Regions from separate parts of the Homo sapiens genome. Here all the other regions are linked to region 2. The links come from fine-mapping of genetic effects on gene expression. A gene starts in region 2. Each other region holds a variant in brackets. All regions are shown on one strand. Distances are from middle to middle.

Region 1 (2,760 bases), 410 kb after region 2:
TCAACTACATCAAAAAATTCAGGTCAATTGCCAACCAATTAACGGGAACATCTGGTTATTTTGACATCTGGTCAAAACAGTTGACCGTTACAACCCAATCAGCATCAAAAATCTGATTCCATAATAAAAGCAGCAAGAGATAGGTTCAAGGTAATGCGTAGGTATTACCTTCATTATGTTGGTTAAGAACACTGACAGCTAGGCTTTGTAAATTTCATTGGGAAACCGGTAGTCATAAGAACGCTTCTGGTTCTGATCCTCAATGATCCAATGAATAATGTTATTTTCTCCACTACAAGGTTGCAGTCCTCTATTTAGATGCCATAGTCTGCCTTTGCTGCAATTTTATGGGTACTTTTAATTTCAAACGTGAAATATTTCATCCGTGTGAAGTATTTCATCTTAAGGAGACAAGTGTTAAATATTTGTTTTAGTGCACCTCAGGGAGTGAAGCCAATATGCATTGAAGATTCAATTAGCAATAGTGATGCTGGTGATTAAAGAGCTGGAATCATCTGGCTGATTCATTTGGTTTCTTTTCATCTCATTTCTTAGGGAATAAATGTGGCTTGAAATAGTTTTATTTTGAATTAATGTTTAATGCTATCCAGCCAAGAAAAACTTTTTTTCCAAATATGTTCTCCTTCATATATAGAGAAATTCTTGATGAGCTCTCCACTATGTGCAAACTGCTCAAGTCATTTGAAAGAATTGGTAAGCTGGAATGTAGGAAGATGAACATTAGTTGTTATTACTAGAAAATTACCTTTCACCTTTTCGCTATAGAGTAGAACTCACAAACCAATGCCATGTGGATTAGAACATTGTTAAGAAACCTGTGAATTAGTTGACAGTATTAATGATTTGAGAGGCTCCACATAATCTGGATTTTTGGCTTCCAGTGGCAAAGGTTGAGCTGTGTATGCCTCTCTTTCAGTGGACATCTGTTCTCTGGTTTACACAGTTCCCACCTGATCAGTGGTGCTCATTTATGTGAGCTGTCTGGCATCTAAAGGCAAATCCTGCTCTGAAGTTTCAGGTTGTGCACATCTTCACGACTCCACAACAGC[A/G]ATGTGGAGGTAGAGGCGGAGAATAGAGTGTGTGCCAATTATGGGACTTACCCACCCAGATTTAGACATAGGTCAGTGGAACTGACCCTAAGAAGAGGCAGCAATATAGGTAAGAATGAAAGCTAAGGCACATCTAACAGCCATCCATGGGTGGGGAGGGCTACAAAAATGATATGGCAGAGCCCGCTGGAGGTGAGGAGATTGCGGAGAAGGGGATTTGCAGTGGAGAGTCATCACTTGAGAGGATTTTTAAGGAGTAGGAAGGCTCCTTCCTGCAAGGAGCTCAAAGCCTCATTCTCAGCGATGGTGGAAGGAATGAAGCAGAAACCCAGTCCCAAGAATCAAGGCTCATCATCACAGCAACCAAAACACAGGGCCGTGAGTCTGTTGAGAAACCGACGTAGCAGCTCAGTGTTAAACAAGATATGCCAGATTGCCAATGCTGAGTTTCAGTGATTGGCAGGCAGAGGCTGTGGGCTCCTTCTTTATTTCAAGAATAGGGCCAGAACTAGAGGTAGACACAACAAAACATGGAGATGTCCTTGAATCTGACTTTGAGGACCTGGGGAAAGATATGCAGAACAATTGCTGAAAGGAGGGTAAAAAATATCTCCATTTCATTCTTCAATGAGTCATTATTTAATATTGAAACCCTTCTGTTAGCATAAACTTTGGTGGCATATTTATTTTTAAAAAGGCTAAAGGAAGAAAGCTCTGAAGACATAGCAGGACTGTGAGATGATACAGAATCATCATCCATCAATGTCTATTCAGCCAGTATTAGCAGAAACCTGTACGGAACAACCACTCTTAACATAGAAAAGGGTATTATAATTTGAAAGCTACAGCTCTTGCCCTAGCACCCAGTTTGACCTCTCCCTATGAGAGAAATGGCCTCTTGAACACCTGAGGGTTAACTAGCCAAGAAAGGGGTTGCTGCTGAGATGGAGGGAGAGATTAGATGGGGAATAATAAACACATAGCTCTGGCTGCTGTACCTCTGGTCACCTCCCAGGATAGGCATCCCTAATTGATTACAGTACTCTTTCCTGCTGAGCTGGGATGAGGCCTCAGAATTGTTCCCAATACCATGTATCAGGAGCCAATCAATTAGGGCTGACATAGCAATGAAATGCATCTGCCCTCCTTTGATTCGGTTTTTACTGCCAAATGGGCTGTGGATGAGGCCGCTGAGTGGGGGCAGAACATTCATGTCCAGGTTGGAAGCAGGCAGATTGTCAGCCAGGGAAGCTTATAACAGGATATATTTTTAAGGTATTTATTTGTATTGATTCTTCCTTCCCTCCCCACTTCGTCTAAGTAGAGAGCAAGGCCCTTATAATTCCCTGCCTGTAGGATTTTGTTGGGCAAAAAGCATAAGATAGAGTAGTACCTCCTTTCTCTTACAAGAAATTAAACTGAATAAAAAGATTCCTTGCTATGTGCTCCAAAAGAAAGAAGGGAGAAGGGAATCATTTAGGATCATTGGAGTCATTGTTTTGCAGGCATGTGGGTGGAAGGAGAAAGGAGAATATAGATAAACGACCTCTAGCAGTCAGGGTCCCAGCAGGAAGACGATGCCCTCAAATTAGAATAGGAGAGGCTACAAGGAAGACGGAAGTACACTGTGTCTAGTAACAGCGGAGCTGTTATCACCAATTGGCCCAAAGGGATGAGGGGAGGGTTTGGT
Region 2 (2,760 bases):
CTGAGGCAGGAGGATTGCTTGAGCTGCGGAGGTTGAGGCTGTGATCCAGCCACTGCACCACAGCTTGGGCAACAGAGCCAGACCCTGTCTCAAAAAAAAAAAAAAAAAAATGTTTCGGATTTTTCAAGGACACTGGGAAGCCATCACATGGTTTTAGGTAGGAAAGAGTCAAGATCAGATTTACATGTTGAGAAATGACTCCAGGAGCCTGAGAAGTTGAAGTCCTTGCGGGTGGTCCAGGTGCGAGTCGGCGGAGGCCCCAGCCAGGGAAGAGGCAGGGAGCTGGAGCGCAGGTCATTGACGGCAGCGAGAGTGGGGAGTCCAGCTGAAGACCTCATGATGGAGGATGTGCTCCATGGAGAAGAGGGGGAAGGCTCTTCCAGAACTGGCCTTCATTTTAGCCCTGTTAGGAAAGGAACGTAGCTTCGGATCCTAGAGGGGCCAGGCACCTGCAGTGTTGTGCTGTTTGAGTCCGCATCCGAATTTCCAGTGTCCTTTCCTTGCTCCTTACTTGCTCCTAGAAGGAGCCCTATGCTCCTAAAGAGTCTTTCGGTGCTGAGCCTTGGCAGTTTAGTTTGCTGAACTCTCGTCAGTGGAGTTAGTGGGTGGTGGTTTGGAAGGAGGGAGACAGAGGTGGAGGGCTTGTTTGAATGCACCAAGCCTTGCAGGCTTTCCTCCTCCCCGCGCTGGCCGGGTAGGTTCTCTTCAGTTCCTGATGAGGCAAACGAGAACAAAGCAGTCGAACAGCACCATGATCGACGATACTTTGGGGGCGGCGTGATCAGAGGATTCCCCTTCCCGGGAACTTGCGTCTAGTCCTCTGACGCATCCTAGTTCGGAGTGGGTGGAAGGGCATGTGGAGTCCACAGCGCCCCCTCGCCCTAGGCGGGGTGGAGACAGCGAGACGACGCCCATGATCAGCTGGTTACAAAACTCGAGGAATAAGAAGTTTAATATTTATTGGTCTGCAAATCCGGAGACCTTGCGGCCTCACTGGTCCTCCTTCCCTCTGAGCTATCTCCACACCCAGCCTTCGATCAGAAGGAGATTTAGAAGCAGAGCTGCCCGCAGCGAATACTTTTAATGCCCGGGCCGGGAAGAAAGCGGGTTAGGATCTGATCCCGCTGAGTAGAGGACCCAGGAGCCTCCCGCCCCGCGTGCTCTGTAGCGCGGGGGCGCGCTGCGCGCTGCGCCTGGGCGGCTGGCGGGGGCGGCGTGGGCGCGGTGATGCAGGTGTGACACCCGCCGGCGCCTGCCTCCGCCCGGATCGCCCAGCTCCGCGTTAGCCGGAGCTGCACGCGGGGCTGCCGGGGCGGACGCTGCTCTGCCTGCATCCGGAGGCGGCCGCCAGCGGATTTGCCACCCAGGTAGGGGACTGCGTTGCTCGCTGCGGTGCAACCGACCCAGCCGGGGCGCGGACCCCGCGTGCGCCAGGGCTCCCAGACTCGCCTGCCTGGGCTGAAATATACACGCTCGCACAGCTGAGTGCTGTTCATAGTAAATGGCACAAAAGATCGGAGAGTCTTGAAAAACCGGCGCAGAAAAGCAAGGACTTGCCCGCTGCCTGGAGCTGTGCGCTTCTTTGAAAGCGGCCTCCCCAAGGGCTGTTTTAAAACCCTGTTTGAACTATTAGCGCCATAAGTAGTTTTGCAACTTATAAATGTCAGGCTGCTGGCATTTATAGCTCCGTTTCCATAAGCTTCCTAGCCGCTGCTTTTAGTTTCAGTTACATTCTAGTAGATAGATTTTGTTATTGTTGTTGGCTTGTTCTTAAAGAACAGAATTCAAACGTGCTTACACCTGGTGGCTCTTGGGGTTTGTGAGTGTGTATTTCTGTATGTGCAGGGCGCCCTCCGTGGGCGTGGGAGCCGTTTCTTAGGGACACAGAAGGATTTGTTTATGGACGGGTTTTAGCGCAAGGGAAAGAAAATGACTTGTTTTGCAGGGATGGGCTAGCAAATGCGTTTAGCCAGGGAGGAGCAAGGCACCGCTGTGTCTTCGGCAGACGGGTGGTAGAAATCTCTGCTGTCCAGGGTTCAGCAGGGCTGATGAAATACACTCCTTTATCCGGAAATTACAGATGCAAATTACTCCGTTTAAGGGTAACTTAACGTTGGTGTCTTGGGCTCTGATAAGAGCAGCCCCAGTGGGGTGGGGTGGGACGCTGGGGGAATGCTTGCTGGCTTTCTAGCCCTTGGGGAGGTGAATGTGGGTGGCTTTGGGGCTCAGAGAGTGGCAGGTGAGGGGTAAGGAGGGTGCATGAGGGAGGACTGGGCACTGTAGTCGGCTCAGCGGTGGTTCTGGTCTATGCTGGTCTCCTCTGTGTTTCTGCTTCCTGCCCTTTCCAGAAGAGGTGACTTGTTCTGCTTGTTCCAGTTGGTGCAGTAGGTACAGGCTCGTTCTGCATCTTTCTTGAGTCAGCAAATACTTACTGAGCACTTAGTATTTGTCAGAGATGGGATTAGTCCTTGGGGATGCAGAGATGATGATAACAATGTCCTGGCTCCCTGAGGTTCACACCTGGTAGGGGGAGAAGCACTCGTAATCAGGAGGTGGATAAGTTCATGATGGTGTTGGAAAAGAGCAGTGAGAGCAGAGAGGAGGAGGAAATTGATAGTGGCAGTGATTAGTATAAAAATGAAGCCCTCATGGATTAGGCATGGCGTGGATTTCAGCAGGGACTGGGTCGCTCTCTTGGTTCTTCGGTCCGGGAGTGACCCACATGACTCTCCCACACCATTGCCATCACTGCCACTGGGT
Region 3 (2,760 bases), 52 kb after region 2:
ATCCCTAGCTCCTGCTGGGAGGAGGACCAGCTGTCCATATTTCTGCCCCAGTGTCTGCTTCCATAAGCAGATGGGTGGGCACAAATTGTAAGGAAACGAATTCCATCATATTTTCTGTCCTGGGAATTTAGTTCTGAGGCTCTGAGAGACTGAAATAGTCATACTGTGGCAAATCATGCCACAAAATCATGTCTGAGCCTTAGATATGGGTGCAGAGGAGCTTGTAGTGAGCAGAGAGCAGGCAGATGCTTGTGAGGAAGCAGAGACAAGAGAACAGATGGCTCCATGGGGAAGGAGTTTTGAATTCTGCACCCCCACCCCTCTGCTCCTGGGCTAGACTTTCCTCCCCTTGCCTAGGAGACTCATATGATTATGATGAAAGAAACCCCCTTACGCGTGTAGCCTGGGAGGGGGCATGGGTTCCTTTTCATCCAGATGATCCTCAGTCAAGATGATTTAGGTGAGAGCCTGTGGGCTTTGACCATGGAGCTGCCTCACCATGAGCGTGGAGCTCTGCCCTGTGCTGAGATGGAAGACTAACAGTTAAGCACATGTGTGCACATTCAAGCCTGTGTGTCTATTCACAAAACTGATCAGGGCCAAAACTCCCCATTGAAACAAAACAAAAGCACAACCATCTGAAGAGAAAAACCATGTCATTAATGGTTACACAGAAAAATTGAGTCAAATTACCAGGTGGCTTCCATAGAAAAGTTAAACTGCAGCTTTATAATTTGGTCATAATATCCCCAGGGAGCCTGTTGTGATTTATTTGCTTGTTTATTTTGAAAGATAAAGAGTACCTCCAAAAGCCTGAATAACAAAAGTTAAATATAAACCACTTTAGCCTAATCAGCCTGAGACCACTAAGGACCAATCTACAGCCCAAGAAAGTCAGATTTATTGATCCATTTTCATGATGGAGGCTGCATGCCTGAAGGGCCATTGGACATCTCACCAAACACAGGGAAAGATAGAATTATTCTACAGTTTTCAAGAAGGCTAAAATTTAGGTAAAATGAAAATAAAGCTTAAAAGCAAAGCAGTGCTGGGTATAGAGGGGTCTGGACTGTAAATTGAACCCAGGCTCCCATTTCCTTGGAAATGACAAGGTTAAGGTAAATGTGAGTGTTTTCGTCAGAAACCCCTTATATGAAGCTTTGTATCTGGGCTGGAAATCAAAGCTGCTTCTCTGTGTCAAAGTGACTTAGGTCTTCCAGGCAAGAGTGAGATGGTTCATTCCTACTCATACAATTTCCAACAGTGAAGTTTCTGATAGTCACTGATTTTAGATATCAAGGCTTTTCAGGATGCAAGAAAACAGTAGTTACTCAAAGAAGGTTATTATGTGTGGTGTGTCCTTGGTAGAAATATCATTTCCTGGTATACTTTGCAAGTAGCTTTATCTATGTCTGTTATCCCAGCCTGATGAATGTCAGGACAAATGTTTATTTTGTCAATCTGAGTTAATTTTTACTCTTTTTTTTTTTTTTTGCCAAAGAGTGAGCAGCAGCAAGATTTATTGCAAAGAGCAAAAGA[G/A]CAAAGCTTCCACAGTGTGGAAGGGGACCCAAGCGGGTTGCCCAGTTTTTACTCTTTAAAAAAATCGTTGAGGCTCTTTGCGAGAGAATGAGTCAATGTTCTTTGTTTTTTCCAGAACTTGTGAATAGATTTTTGTAAAACTTGTGAGAACTCACAGCTATTCTCTATGAACACACATGGTTAATGGTGTTTGGAGGAGCTGGGTGGGAGCTGCCAGCTTTGCTGATATCGCAGCTGGGATTTCCCAGCCTTGAGAGGTGGCATAACACAGGGCACTGTTCCCACCTTTGAGTCTCTTGGGCTTCACTTTCCTGATCTTTTTCCATATGAGGGAACATGTATTATTATTTACTTAATTTTTAAGAAGTGAATTTACATCTTGTCCTTAAATAGATGCATTACAAAGTAAAGCTTTTAATCACTGCCATAACAGGAAAAACAGTATTGCTTTCATATATTCAAAGTAACCATAGGAAAGAAATTAAATGATACCTGGTATCACTTCTTTTTATCATCTATTGCTTGTCAAATTGTGTAAGTTTGGCTTGTGTTACCTTTAAAAAAGGGAATGTGGGGTGAGGAAGATATTAGCAAAGGTCAGAAAGGAAACAGAAAGGAAAGAGGTTTTCTTTCTGAGCTTCCTTTCATCCCACAGCACCAACTAAGACTTTCTCCATGATTAGATAGATAAAAGAGTTAAAAGAGGAGACTCATACCATGTATCTTAGTCCATTTTGTACTGCCATAACAAAATACCTGAGACCGGGCAATTTACAAACAATAGAAATCTATTTCTCACAGTTCTGGAGGCTGAGGAGTCCATGATCATGGTGTCAGCAGATTCGTGTCTGGAGGGGGAATCTCTGCCTCCTAGTTGGTGCCTTCCAAGATGGTGCTGGGTTCTCATGTGATGGAAATGGTGAACTCTGCCCTGACATGCAGAAGGGCTAAAGGGATGAATGCTCTGTCCTTATATGGCAGGGGAGATGGAGGGATCAGGCAGCTCTCTGAAGCCTCTTTTAGAAGAGCATTAATCCCATTCACAAGGTGGAGCCCTCGTGACTTACTTACTTCACCTCCACCTCTTAATACTATCATCTTAGGGGTTAAGTTCCAACGTATGACTTTTGGGGGGACAAATACATTCGAACCATAGCAGCAGGATTCACTATTGGACCACGTCACATCATCTCTGGTGCCAGCGTCACTGTGTGTCCCACC

Alleles and levels. Alleles are on the strand shown, and positions count from the first base shown. SD is a standard deviation of normalised expression in the study named. Not every link is listed here.
In carriers of allele A in region 3, the expression in pancreas of the gene that starts at base 1,261 in region 2 tends to be higher than with G alone (large effect, 1.5 SD a copy in GTEx).

The links. PIP is the estimated chance that this variant, and not a neighbour inherited with it, causes the effect.
Region 1: its variant is fine-mapped to the expression of SV2B in T cells (TOPMed, PIP 0.91).
Region 3: its variant is fine-mapped to the expression of SV2B in pancreas (GTEx, PIP above 0.99).

Annotation. Positions count from the first base shown.
Region 1 is chr15:91,512,218-91,514,977 of GRCh38, forward strand. No RefSeq gene overlaps it. Among named protein-coding and RNA genes, the nearest start is that of CRAT37, 50 kb to the left of the region's middle. The variant A/G (reference allele first, on the strand shown) is at 1,071.
Region 2 is chr15:91,098,997-91,101,756 of GRCh38, forward strand. It overlaps SV2B (synaptic vesicle glycoprotein 2B), which reads left to right and starts at 1,261. Exons shown (of 13, transcript NM_001323032.3): 1 at 1,261-1,367. RefSeq lists an enhancer at 497-1,038 and a silencer at 1,088-1,487.
Region 3 is chr15:91,150,593-91,153,352 of GRCh38, forward strand. All of the region lies in intron 1 of SV2B (synaptic vesicle glycoprotein 2B), which reads left to right. Among named protein-coding and RNA genes, the nearest start is that of SV2B, 52 kb to the left of the region's middle. The variant G/A (reference allele first, on the strand shown) is at 1,540.